Linked DNA regions of Homo sapiens: region 2 is linked to region 1. A link means that fine-mapping ties the variant in region 1 to the expression of a gene that starts in the linked region. Tissue or cell type: whole blood. Region 1 holds a variant in brackets; the other region holds the start of a gene. All regions are shown on one strand. Distances are from middle to middle.

Region 1 (5,285 bases):
AAGACAATGACAAGGGTGGGAAGCGCCATATGGGAAGAGAACCAAGTTCAGTGATAGAGAGCAGAGGTGAGGCGGCAGCAGAAACCACTTAAGGGACACCACGTGGCACTCCTTCTGTGCTGAGAAGGCTGTCAGTAAGCTCACCATTTATTTCCTATTTTCTCTCCTGAGTTAAATAGGAAACATGTCTCGCATTACTTGAAAAATCAAGTCAAACTATGCTCTTACTAGGAGTTATGGTTCTTTTTATGTCTTAGATGATGCTTGATCTAGATGAATGCGGACTTGCTGTAGCTAGATAAATACAATGGGAGTTTGAAGGTGTTTCGTAGCCCTGGAAATAGGTATTTCCTGTCAAAACAAGCTTTGTCATTGCCAGCAGACAAAAGCATCAGTAACCTTGGTTGATAATCGTCATTTCTTAGGAATAAAGTAGACTGTAGAATTTTTTTTAGCAGAAAGGAAACCCAAAGATAATTCTAGTGCAAATCCCTCACTTTATAGAGCAGAAGCTCAAGTCCCAGAGGAACAAGTGGCTTGAACGAACATCAGAATTTTAGGGGCTGGATTTGTACCCTCCTGGTGCCAGCAGCCCACTTCCCTGCAGGAGGCACTCACCTTCCTTGCACAGGGGTATGAGTGTGGCCATTTTCCACCCATAATCTCTGTTAGCTCATGTTCAATTGGGTTCCCATTGAAAGAAAAATGGACCAGTAAGTTGGAGCAGAATCATTCAGATGGTATAACATAAGGAAAAACTTTGCCCAAGGCAAATCGTGATTGTGACAGCTTTGTGATTTTTAGAGAATAGCATGGGCCAGGCACAGTGGCTCATGCCTGTAATCCCAGCACTTTGGGAGGCCGAGGCAGGCAGGTCACTTGAGGTTGGGAGTTCGACAACAGCCTGACCAACATGGAGAAACCCTGTCTCTACTAAAAATACAAAATTAGCTGGGCGTGGTGGTGCATGCCTGTAATGCCAGCTACTCGGGAGGCTGAGGCAGGAGAATCACTTAAACCTGGGAGGCGGAGGTTGCGGTGAACCAAGATAGCACCATTGCACTCCAGCCTGGGCAACAAGAGTGAAACTCCGTCTCAAAAAGAGTTCACAGTTTCTCTTTTGCTTTGATTTTCTTATCTGCCGGATAACAATAGTATTTTGGAAGGCAGGAGGAATTGTGGAAAGAAATGGGTTTTGGGGAGTGGCTGATTGGAGGCAAATCCAAGGACACTCATTGCTGGTGTGTGACTCCAGGCAGTTACTCAGCTTTTCCAAGCCTCAGTTTCCTTATTGTAAAACAGGACCATGGTCTAGCTAGTAGCATTCCTATGGTGAGTGAAATAATATGTATAAAGCTCCTGACACAGTGCTTGGCATATATCAGATTGAGCCATGTAAAACTGCCAATATCTGGCTATTTATGACCTACAAAAATAGCATTTCATATGATTCCACCTAACATCTGAAGCGCAATAAATGTTATTATTGATAATGCAGGTGGTGGTGATAAAGTTTTGAAATCAGAAAGACCTGGCTTCAAATTCCACGCCTTCACTGGCCTGACTTATTTTCATTCATTTGACAAATATTATTTTGAACACCCCTATGTGCCAGGCACTATGCCAGGCTCAGAGATGATCTAGGAAAAAGACAGATGTCCTCATCTGTCTTAGGCTCTTGTGGCCTAAGCCTAAATTTCCTCGTCTGTCAAATGGTGACAGTAACACACTCCTTACCAGAGAGCTGGGAGGATTGGAGACTCAAGTTCCCAAAACGCCAGGAGCACTGCGGCAGGTGAAAAGTATTCCCTCAATGGCGGAAGTGTTTAAATTGCTTTTATATCTGTAGCTCTAGATAACACTAGTTCCAGCTTAGTTAACTCCCAGCTCCAAGCCTTCAGGACTTCATAGAGTTATTGGGGTGCTGCTCTTGGCAGTTTCCCAAAAAGCTAGAATGCAGAGGGAATCTCCTTCCCAAAAAGCTAGAATGCAGAGGGAATCTCCTTCCCAAAAGGCTAGAACGCAGAGGGAATCTCCTTCCCAAAAGGCTAGAACGCAGAGGGAATCTCCTTCCCAAAAGGCTAGAATGCAGAGGGAATGTCCTTCTCTTCTAAATGGTAGCTGTTAGTTCAAGAAAGGTTAAACATTGTGCTGTGGGGAGGCTCAGGGGTGAAGGGTGTACTTTTAAGAGAACCAGTTTCAGAGCTGGGTTTGGGGTTTAAGCCCTACCCTCTGCCCCCTTTTACGAGCTGACAGCCTTATGCAAGCCTGGTTGACCACCTGAACCCACGTTTCCACATCTGGAAATAGAAATGTGGGTACTAGTTATGTTGAAAGGACTCAGGTTAGATGATAGATATGCAAATACCTTGGAAACCAGGAGTGTCCAGTCTTTTGGGTTCCCTGAGCCACACTGGAAGAAGAGTTGTCTTGGGCCACACATAGAATACACTAACCCTATCAATAGCTGATGAGCTAAAGAAAAAACGTTGCAAAAAAAATCTCATATTTTTAAGAAAGTTTATGAATTTGTGTTGGGCTGTATTCAAAGCCATCCTGGGCCACGTGCGACCCGCAGGCTCCGGGTTGGACAAGTTTGTTGTAAACAATGCCATGATGCCGGCATAAGGTCGTTACCAGTATTAGGAAGGTTCTCAGGTTTCCTCTAGCCCTTGGGCTCTTTTCCTGAAGTGCGTGTGTCTTCTGCTAGATTTTGTGACCAATGTTGATTGCCTAATTGGGCTAACAGCATGTTTTGGTGGCTACGAAACTGACACAGGTGTTTTCATTTCTCCACTTAGTTCCTGCTGCGTTTGCTGGACTGATGTACTTGTTTGTGAGGCAAAAGTACTTTGTCGGTTACCTAGGAGAGAGAACGCAGAGGTAGGTAACTGGGACTACTAAAGAACTGTGGAGCGATTCCTGATTTTTGAGCAGGAAGAGTGACAATTCAAAACAGTATTTGACTAGATTCACGGCTCCGTAGCATCCCCTTGGGTGGGAGGGGGAAGGCTGACTAGGACCTCTGATTCTTCT[T/C]TCCCTGAGCTTTGAAGGCTCTGAAAATACAGCTGGGGGGACTTGCCCAGTTTTCTTATTAAGCAATTCCTCCGCATGGTGCTGGCTTTCAAAGGGTGCTTCAGTGCTGTTTGCTGCACGTGCCTTGCAGCCCCACACCCTGCACTCCCGCCCTGCAGAGTCTGGCGCTGGAATGACATTTTAGGTCTGGGTTCCCAGGCCTCCTGAGAGTGAAATGTTTCATTGTTTGTCTAGAGAAATGAGAACTAAAGCTTGCACCTTGTGATAAGTTGTCCTGAGGAACATATCTTTCAGGGACCAGAAGAAAGAATGTTGGGAAAATAAGATGCAGTAAGATGCAGACATGACAGCAGGGTGCAGCGGCTCACGCCTATAATCCCAGCACTTTGGGAGGCTGAGGTGGGTGGATCACCTGAGGTCAGGAGTTTGAGACCAGCCTGGCCAACATGGTGAAACCCCGTCTCTACTAAAAAATATACAAAACATTAGCCAGGCATGGTGGTGGGCGCCTGTAATCCCAGCTACTCCATAGGCTGAGGCTGGAGAATCGCTTGAACCCAGGAGGCAGAGGTTGCAGTGAGCCGAGATTGCGCCACTGCACTCCAGCCTGGGCAACAAAAGCAAAACTCCATCTCAAAAAAAAAAAAAAAAAAAAAAAAAAAGATGCAGACACGAGACTGTGAAACTGACTAGCATCACCATTGCATTGTTTATAGATGTTGCCAGACAGAAAGCCCCAAAGCAGCACAGTACCTTCCTGACATCTGGACTAGGAAATCTAGATTTTAGTAAAATACATGCTAATACTTACAGAAGAAATGTCGGCGTTAGAGTATGCCGTCAGTTCCTTAGAGATTGCAATTCCTAATGCACTAGTATGGTTTCAGGTGCCAGGAACACGTTCTGTGAGGCTGCTGCCCCAGGTGCTGACCCCAGCCTTCCACACCATTTTCCTTCCTTGTGTTCACAGCCGCTCTGTCTTTTACAATAGCACCCCTCTCTAGTGGCTAATGGGCTCTATGATTAGATAGCATCCTTCAGTAGTGATAAAGGCAGTGACATCCTAGGGAGGTCAGCGGGTGAAAGCGCTATATCTGGAAAACCTGAGAGCCTGTGAAGCTCAAGGACTTGACGGGGTTAGACCGTGAGCCGGGCTGCAGCTGGAAAAAGAATGACTGTTCTTTCAGCAGATCCTTCCCTGTGCCATCTCTTTCTTCATTCCTCTCTAGTGGCATTCTTATTTATCCTCTAAAACCACAATTCCATTATCTCTCCTATTCTTATCAACACTGCCCTAAATGATATTCTTTATTCTCTTTTGCCCTGGAAAACCTCTATCATGCCTTTTCCCATGTGATTACCTCGTTAAGAGTGGGGGTGGAATGTCTAGCAATGAAATAAGAGGGTCTTCTCTTTTGCCTGGCTCCCTATGCAGCCCTATCTTACCCCCTGCAAAGTCCCAGGGATGTGGCTCAGTCACTGCTCCTCTCTTCATCTGTCACCACTTGCTTGAGATCCTACAGCTGCTTTAATTCCGAGACCATCTGCAGAACATGACAAAATTTGTCCACCTACCCACATGTCCTTTTAACTTTAAAGGCTTTACTAACTGATTCCTATTAGGGAATGAACAGAGGTGGCAAAAATAAACAATAGGAGATTGATTTACAAGAAATCTTTAAAATAGTAGATTTCTTCGGACCTCATTGAAATATAAATGGCCTGCCTTCTTGTGTCCCTCCCTGGTCTCCCTCTTTAGGTGATAAGAAGAAGATCCTGCCAGCCCCATAACCCGCCATCTGCGCGGGTTCTAGACCCCCTTCTCCTCCCCTCTGGCCGTGGTAGGCATTACTGATGAATCATGGTGCTCTTTCTTCCAGAGACCAAACCTGGCCTCGGAATCCTTCTTAACACAGATACTGCTTAACACAACCACTCTGAGCAGCTGTCATAAGTAGAAGTAATAGATACTAGAAGAAATGTCTAAGCCTAATCTAGACCAAAATACGGCCTGATATAGATGCAAGCCAGAGGGGCTTTATGGTTAAATGCAAGGAGATTTTCAACCCTGCCGTCTAGAAGCTACTTGCTGAGATCTTCTTCAGTTGGGCCCATCTCCTCCCCAGGCCTCTCTTCTGTTCCTGGGCTATGTCACACTTGGACTCTGCAGACACCTAATGCTCTTGGGACCTGCTTTAGTTCTTGACCTCACCAACCGAGGAGGAATTGCTAGATGAGATCCTTCCCCC
Region 2 (5,285 bases), 48 kb after region 1:
TCAGCCACCTAAGTTCTCTAATAAATTAATATACACTTTCTGAAATTAGAAAATAAAAAAAGAAGGCTTTGTGTATTACATGCAAAAGAGAAAAGTCTAGAAGATACTAGTCAGAGGTGTCTGAGTCAAAGGTTAATCAAAATTAAAGGAAATAGTAAAGAAGTAGTATAGGAAAATGTCACCACTTGGGAAGGCTGGCAGAGAATTTTAAAATCCTCTTTTCCACAAAAGATTACAGGTAACACACATTCATGAGTCCTTTGACCCAATGCAAGGTCACAGAGAGAATGTATCTGACACCTATTTTATTTGTGTTCTGCTCTATTCCAAAAAGGACTTAAGGTGGTTTGAAGAGGAGGAGACATAAAATAAAAGTTAAATATGTACTAAAAGCCTGAGCAAAAAAGAAAGGAAAGAAAAGAGTGGCAACATAAAATAGAGGCTGGAACAAGGTGAGGGAAATTAAAAGCACACCGTGCAGGTTGATATGGTTCCTTCCTGTGGGCCGTGAGTTTGGCTCTAGGAGTTAACTGGGAAAGGGAAACAGATGAATATTAAACATAAAAGCAGATCGATTGCTTAGGAGACCACTATTTTTGGAATCCAGGAATGGTAGGCCTTTCTCCTGCAGGCCTTTCCCCACCATCTGTATAATGTACTAAGCCACAGCCCTAATAGCATAATAGCATCCTGTATCTGATGTGGCCTCAAGCGGTTCAGAATTTGGAACTGTGGATCTGCTTAGGACTTCAGTTTCCTTGTTTCATAATCTGCTCCCGAATACCCCATATCTGGGCATATTCTTATTTGATTCAGGTCTGCTGTGGTCCAGATCTGTAAGACTCTGCCCTGCAAACAGACAGTATAGAAAATATCATCAGTGACCATATTATTTAACCTCCACATTATCACCCACATCCTCATGAGTGTGAGGGTCCAAATGGTACTGATAAGAAAAGTTAGTAAGAGGCAAGGTCACCTGCAGTGTCTGGGGTAACAGACACCACATCTCTGCAAGCCCCAGCCTTCAGCCTGCCAGGTGGAGGGGCAGACTCCATCTGATCTCAGAAAATTTGAGAACCGTCCAGGCACAGTGGCTCACACCTTTAATTCCAGCACTTTGGGAGGCCAAGGCTGGTGAATCACTTGAGGTCAGGAGTTTGAGACGAGCCTGGCCAACATGGCGAAACCCCGTCTCCACTAAAAATACAAAAATTATCCGGGCATGGTGGCACGCACCTGTAGTCACAGCTTCTCGGAGGCTGAGGCAGGAGAATTGCTTGAATCCTGGAAGCGGAAGTTGCAGTGAACTGAAATCATACCACCGCACTCCAGCCTGTGTGACAGAAACAGACTCTGTCTCAAAAAAAAAAAAAAATTGAGAACCTTCCCAGGGCCCACCTACAGTTGACTCTTGAGTAATGAAGGCTTTAGGGGTGCCAATCCCCACACAGTTTAAAATCTATATACAACTTTTGACTCCCCCAAACTGAACTACTAATAGCCTACTGTTGACTGGAAGCCTTATTGATAACATAAATAGTCGATTCACACATATTTTGTATGTTAATGTATTATATACTATATTCTTACAATAAAGTAAGCTAAAGAAAAGAAATTGTTATTTAAAAAATCATAAGGAAGAGAAAGTATATCGACTACTCATTAAGTGGAAGTGGATCGCCATGAAGGCCTTCAGCCTTGTGGTCTTCTGAGTAGGCTGAGGAGGAGGAGGAAGAGGAGGGGTTGGTCCCGCTTCTCAGGGGTGGCAGAGGCAGAAGAAGGTCCACCTCTAACTGGACACACACAGTTCAAACCTGTGTTGTTCAAGGTCAACTGTACACGCCACCGAGACCAGAATGGGTGGTTTGATATTTGTCAGTGGCAACAATTCAATATTCTATCCTTTAGATGTTTTCTCACTCTGGTCACATTTAATGTGTTTAATTGATGCTGTGTGGAAGTTTCTTCACGTTAGAGGATAAATAAGCCATTCCCTTTGATAGGAGCCTGGGGCTTTCCCTGCGAGGAGGGCACTTTGGGAGCAGCCTTCTCATTAGAGGGCAATTAGCCGGGCTCCCGCACCCGGTGCCCTGAGCGGGGCTCCTGAGTAGGCAGGGCAGACGCGCCATCTAGTGGCAGCTCTCAGGACGTCCACACGCCTGCTCCTGCGGGCTCCCGCGCCCTGGGGTGGCAGGCACCGGCATGCTAGAGGTTAACGAGGAGGTTCCCTCCTTCCAGCGTGGATGAGCCTTTCCGTGAGGGTGACCGGAAAGGCGCCTGGGCTGGTGACGGTGTCAAGTGTAGGCAAGAAATACGGCTGATCAAGAAGCGACTTCACCTCCCTCGCACAACACTGAGTCCCTTTGCGGCAGGGGCCCTCCCCGCCGCGAACCCTACTTGGAACCTTGCGCCATGCGATGTCTCTCTCATTCTAGGCCACGGAAGCCCTGGGTCACCCTTTCAGCCTGGTTCTCTCCGGTGGTGCTGGCTTGTTTCTCCTGTCTGTTGGGGTCAGCTGCGTCCAGCCTCGGCTCCTGCAGGATTGCCCGGGCAACCCAGAGGAGATGGGCGGGCGTGGAGGTCCTCCCTGGATGACCCTTCCCACCATTTCAACATCATTAGGAATTTAACAGGCTTTTGCAAGAAGGCCCAGGTACGCATCCCCCCATTTATAGTAGGATTTCCAGGACAAAATGTATTCCACTCTCTAAACAACAAGCAACATGTATACAACCCATTCATAAGGTAAAGATTCCCTTGCCTACACCTAGCTTCTCCTGCCCAAGCATGGCCTTGTCGTTCTCTTCCCCAGGTCAAGTTCAGGACCTAGCAGCTGGGAATGCACATTTTCCAAGTTAAGAGTGGAAGAGTCCCAGCTTGGCTTAGATGGAGTCACATATAGGATTCAGGTTTGCCTTGGCAGGTCTGATGGACCTTGGTGAGGGTCCGCCAGCAGCTGTGCACAGCAGCTGCCCAGGGCCATGCAGCAGGCACCGCACTCCCCTTCCAGGAAGGATTCCAGGCCCAGCTACAAGGAGCGTGGCTACTGACAGCTGTCCACTCACAGCTCGTCAGACTAAGCTTCAGCTTTCAAAAAGGACTGTGCCCTCCTTGGGCTGGCCCAGGCCCACATAAGAGCAAGGCAGTGGCCCAAAGGCCTGGCATTTCTGCCCACCACGGGATTCCTCTCCTGGGTGGTCTGTGCTCCAGAGCTCTCTGTGGGGCTGGCTTACTTCTCCCCTGGCCCCTCCACAGGAGTTACTCAGCTATAGCCCCTCTGCACACATAACTCTATCTGGGAGCCTTTCCCGGAGGATGCAACCTAACTGGTTGGCTCATCCTATAGAAGCCAGTGTCCTTGACTTTTTCAGGTGATGAACCTCTTTTGAGAGGATGCTGATAACTGTAAGCATCTTCCCAGGATTTGCACATGTCCAGTGTTAGAGTGCAGGTCCCCCAAGGCCATCCCACGGGCCTTCACAGGGAGTCGGGTTGAGGACTTCTGACTGAAGGAGGTGGGGAGGAGGCGAAGTCGGGGAATGAGGAAGATGGGGCTGGGGGATAATAACAGGGCTTCCGGCAATGGAGAGGAGGGTTAATTCTCATTTCTGACTCACAGCGCAGCCTCCCATGAGTTCATGGATTCTGTGGGAAAAACCAAAAGCCAATTCCCTCAAGTGCTATGTCAGGCCCTGCAGGCAGGTGGCCGGCGGTGGCCCCATATGGCTCTGGCACAATGAGGGCTTCAGAGAACAGAGCTGCCTCTGCCTGGGGAGTGCCAGTGGCATCAGCAGCAGGGGTGGTGCCCAGTCACCCATGTGGCAGAGGCTGGCTGGGCACCGTCTCCTCTGGGTAACATGGTGCCCACCAAGCCCTGGAAGCAAGGCCTCCCAGCACCTTTGCAAGCAGCAGATATCATCTAGCAATGTCCAGCTGGATGGAAAGAAGATACAACAGCTGGAAAGTGGCATTGGCTGACCTCCTCCAGAAAGTCTCTTTCCAAAATAATTGGCAAGGGTTTCAGGTGTTAGATGTTCTTCACTGACAGGTGGAGAAGGAGCTAACAAAACAAGATTGTGCAGGAATGAGAAGTCGTATTTAGGATGTACGACAGCAGACACACAGCACACACACACACACACACACACACACACACACACACACACACACACACACCAGGGGCTGTTTTCAGCACTCACTTATATTAATTGATTTAATCCACATACAGCCTCATGTGCTAGCTCCTATTATTATCTCATTTTACTCTCAAAAAAACTGATGCACAGAAAGGTTTAGCAGCCTGCTAAAGTCACGCAGCTGAAAAGTGGCAGAGCTGGGATCTGAGCCAGGAAGCAAGGTACAAGGTCTGTGCTCTTCATCTCCTTCTATGCTGGCTGTATGCTTGCTAGCGGCCATGAACTTGGACCTTGGGGTGGGAGGGCTCTGCGTTCATTCCCAGCCCCCCTTGTTACTGGCTGTGTGATTTCAGGTCGGTTTCATTCTTCTCTTTGACTCAGTTTCCTCAACTGAGTGTAAAATGATAGTGATCCTACCTCATAAACATGTGTGAGGCTTAAATGAGCTAATTATGTAAAAGATTTTTGCTGCCACACAGAAAAATGCTTAGTCTGACATTGAATATATATGAAATTTTTGGATCTGCGCCACCCACAGAACTCAGAGTAGGTTCTTTAAATAAACTTCTGCCCCAGACTCCCAGGCCAGCCCAGCCACTGAAGGCACCAAGACAGGAGCCCTGTGTCCGCTCCAGCCCTGAGGCTCCGGAAGCCAGGCAAGAGCATTTCCCGGTGGATTCCTGGCTGGGCCCAGCCTGGGGCCTCTCAGTGCTCCTGGTAGCCTTGCATTTTCTATCTTCAAGGGAAGCTTGAGTGCTGGAAGCCTGCCCGCCCCTGCACATTCCTACCAGCGCCTGAAATCAATGATGCCCTTGTTCTCCTTGGAAGCGTTGGATGTGTGGGAGAAGGTTGAGGGCACACTGTCATCCCGCCAAGCTGTCTGGAAAGCTGGAGGGTGCATGAAAGGCTGGGGAGCACCCAGTCCTGCATAGGTACCTCCTGCTTCAAATCAGCCAGATCCAGGGACTCACACCATGGCATCAATGTGAGGAGCACTATAAGAGGATACCCTTCTAGTGGGTTTCAAAGCACCTGATTAATACAAATGTAATCAACACGAAGCTTTTCTACTACATATTCTTTGTGTAAAGCCATATGCACTCACATTCAGAAATACTAAAGATCAGGTCTAGAAAAATATTCCTA

Which allele goes with the higher level. Alleles are on the strand shown, and positions count from the first base shown. SD is a standard deviation of normalised expression in the study named.
For the expression in whole blood of the gene that starts at base 2,270 in region 2, allele C in region 1 goes with a lower level than allele T (small effect, 0.25 SD a copy in GTEx).

What was found. PIP is the estimated chance that this variant, and not a neighbour inherited with it, causes the effect.
Region 2: it holds the start of LINC00398, and the variant in region 1 is fine-mapped to the expression of LINC00398 in whole blood (TOPMed, PIP above 0.99).

The regions. Positions count from the first base shown.
Region 1 is chr13:30,753,143-30,758,427 of GRCh38, forward strand. ALOX5AP (arachidonate 5-lipoxygenase activating protein) reads left to right here. Exons shown (of 5, transcript NM_001629.4): 4 at 2,802-2,883. It overlaps LOC124903146 (a long non-coding RNA gene), which reads right to left and starts at 2,457. Exons shown (of 3, transcript XR_007063743.1): 1 at 2,369-2,457. The variant T/C (reference allele first, on the strand shown) is at 3,037.
Region 2 is chr13:30,800,937-30,806,221 of GRCh38, forward strand. LINC00398 (long intergenic non-protein coding RNA 398) reads left to right here and starts at 2,270. Exons shown (of 2, transcript NR_047012.1): 1 at 2,270-2,656. RefSeq lists a silencer at 2,045-2,164 and an enhancer at 4,323-4,823.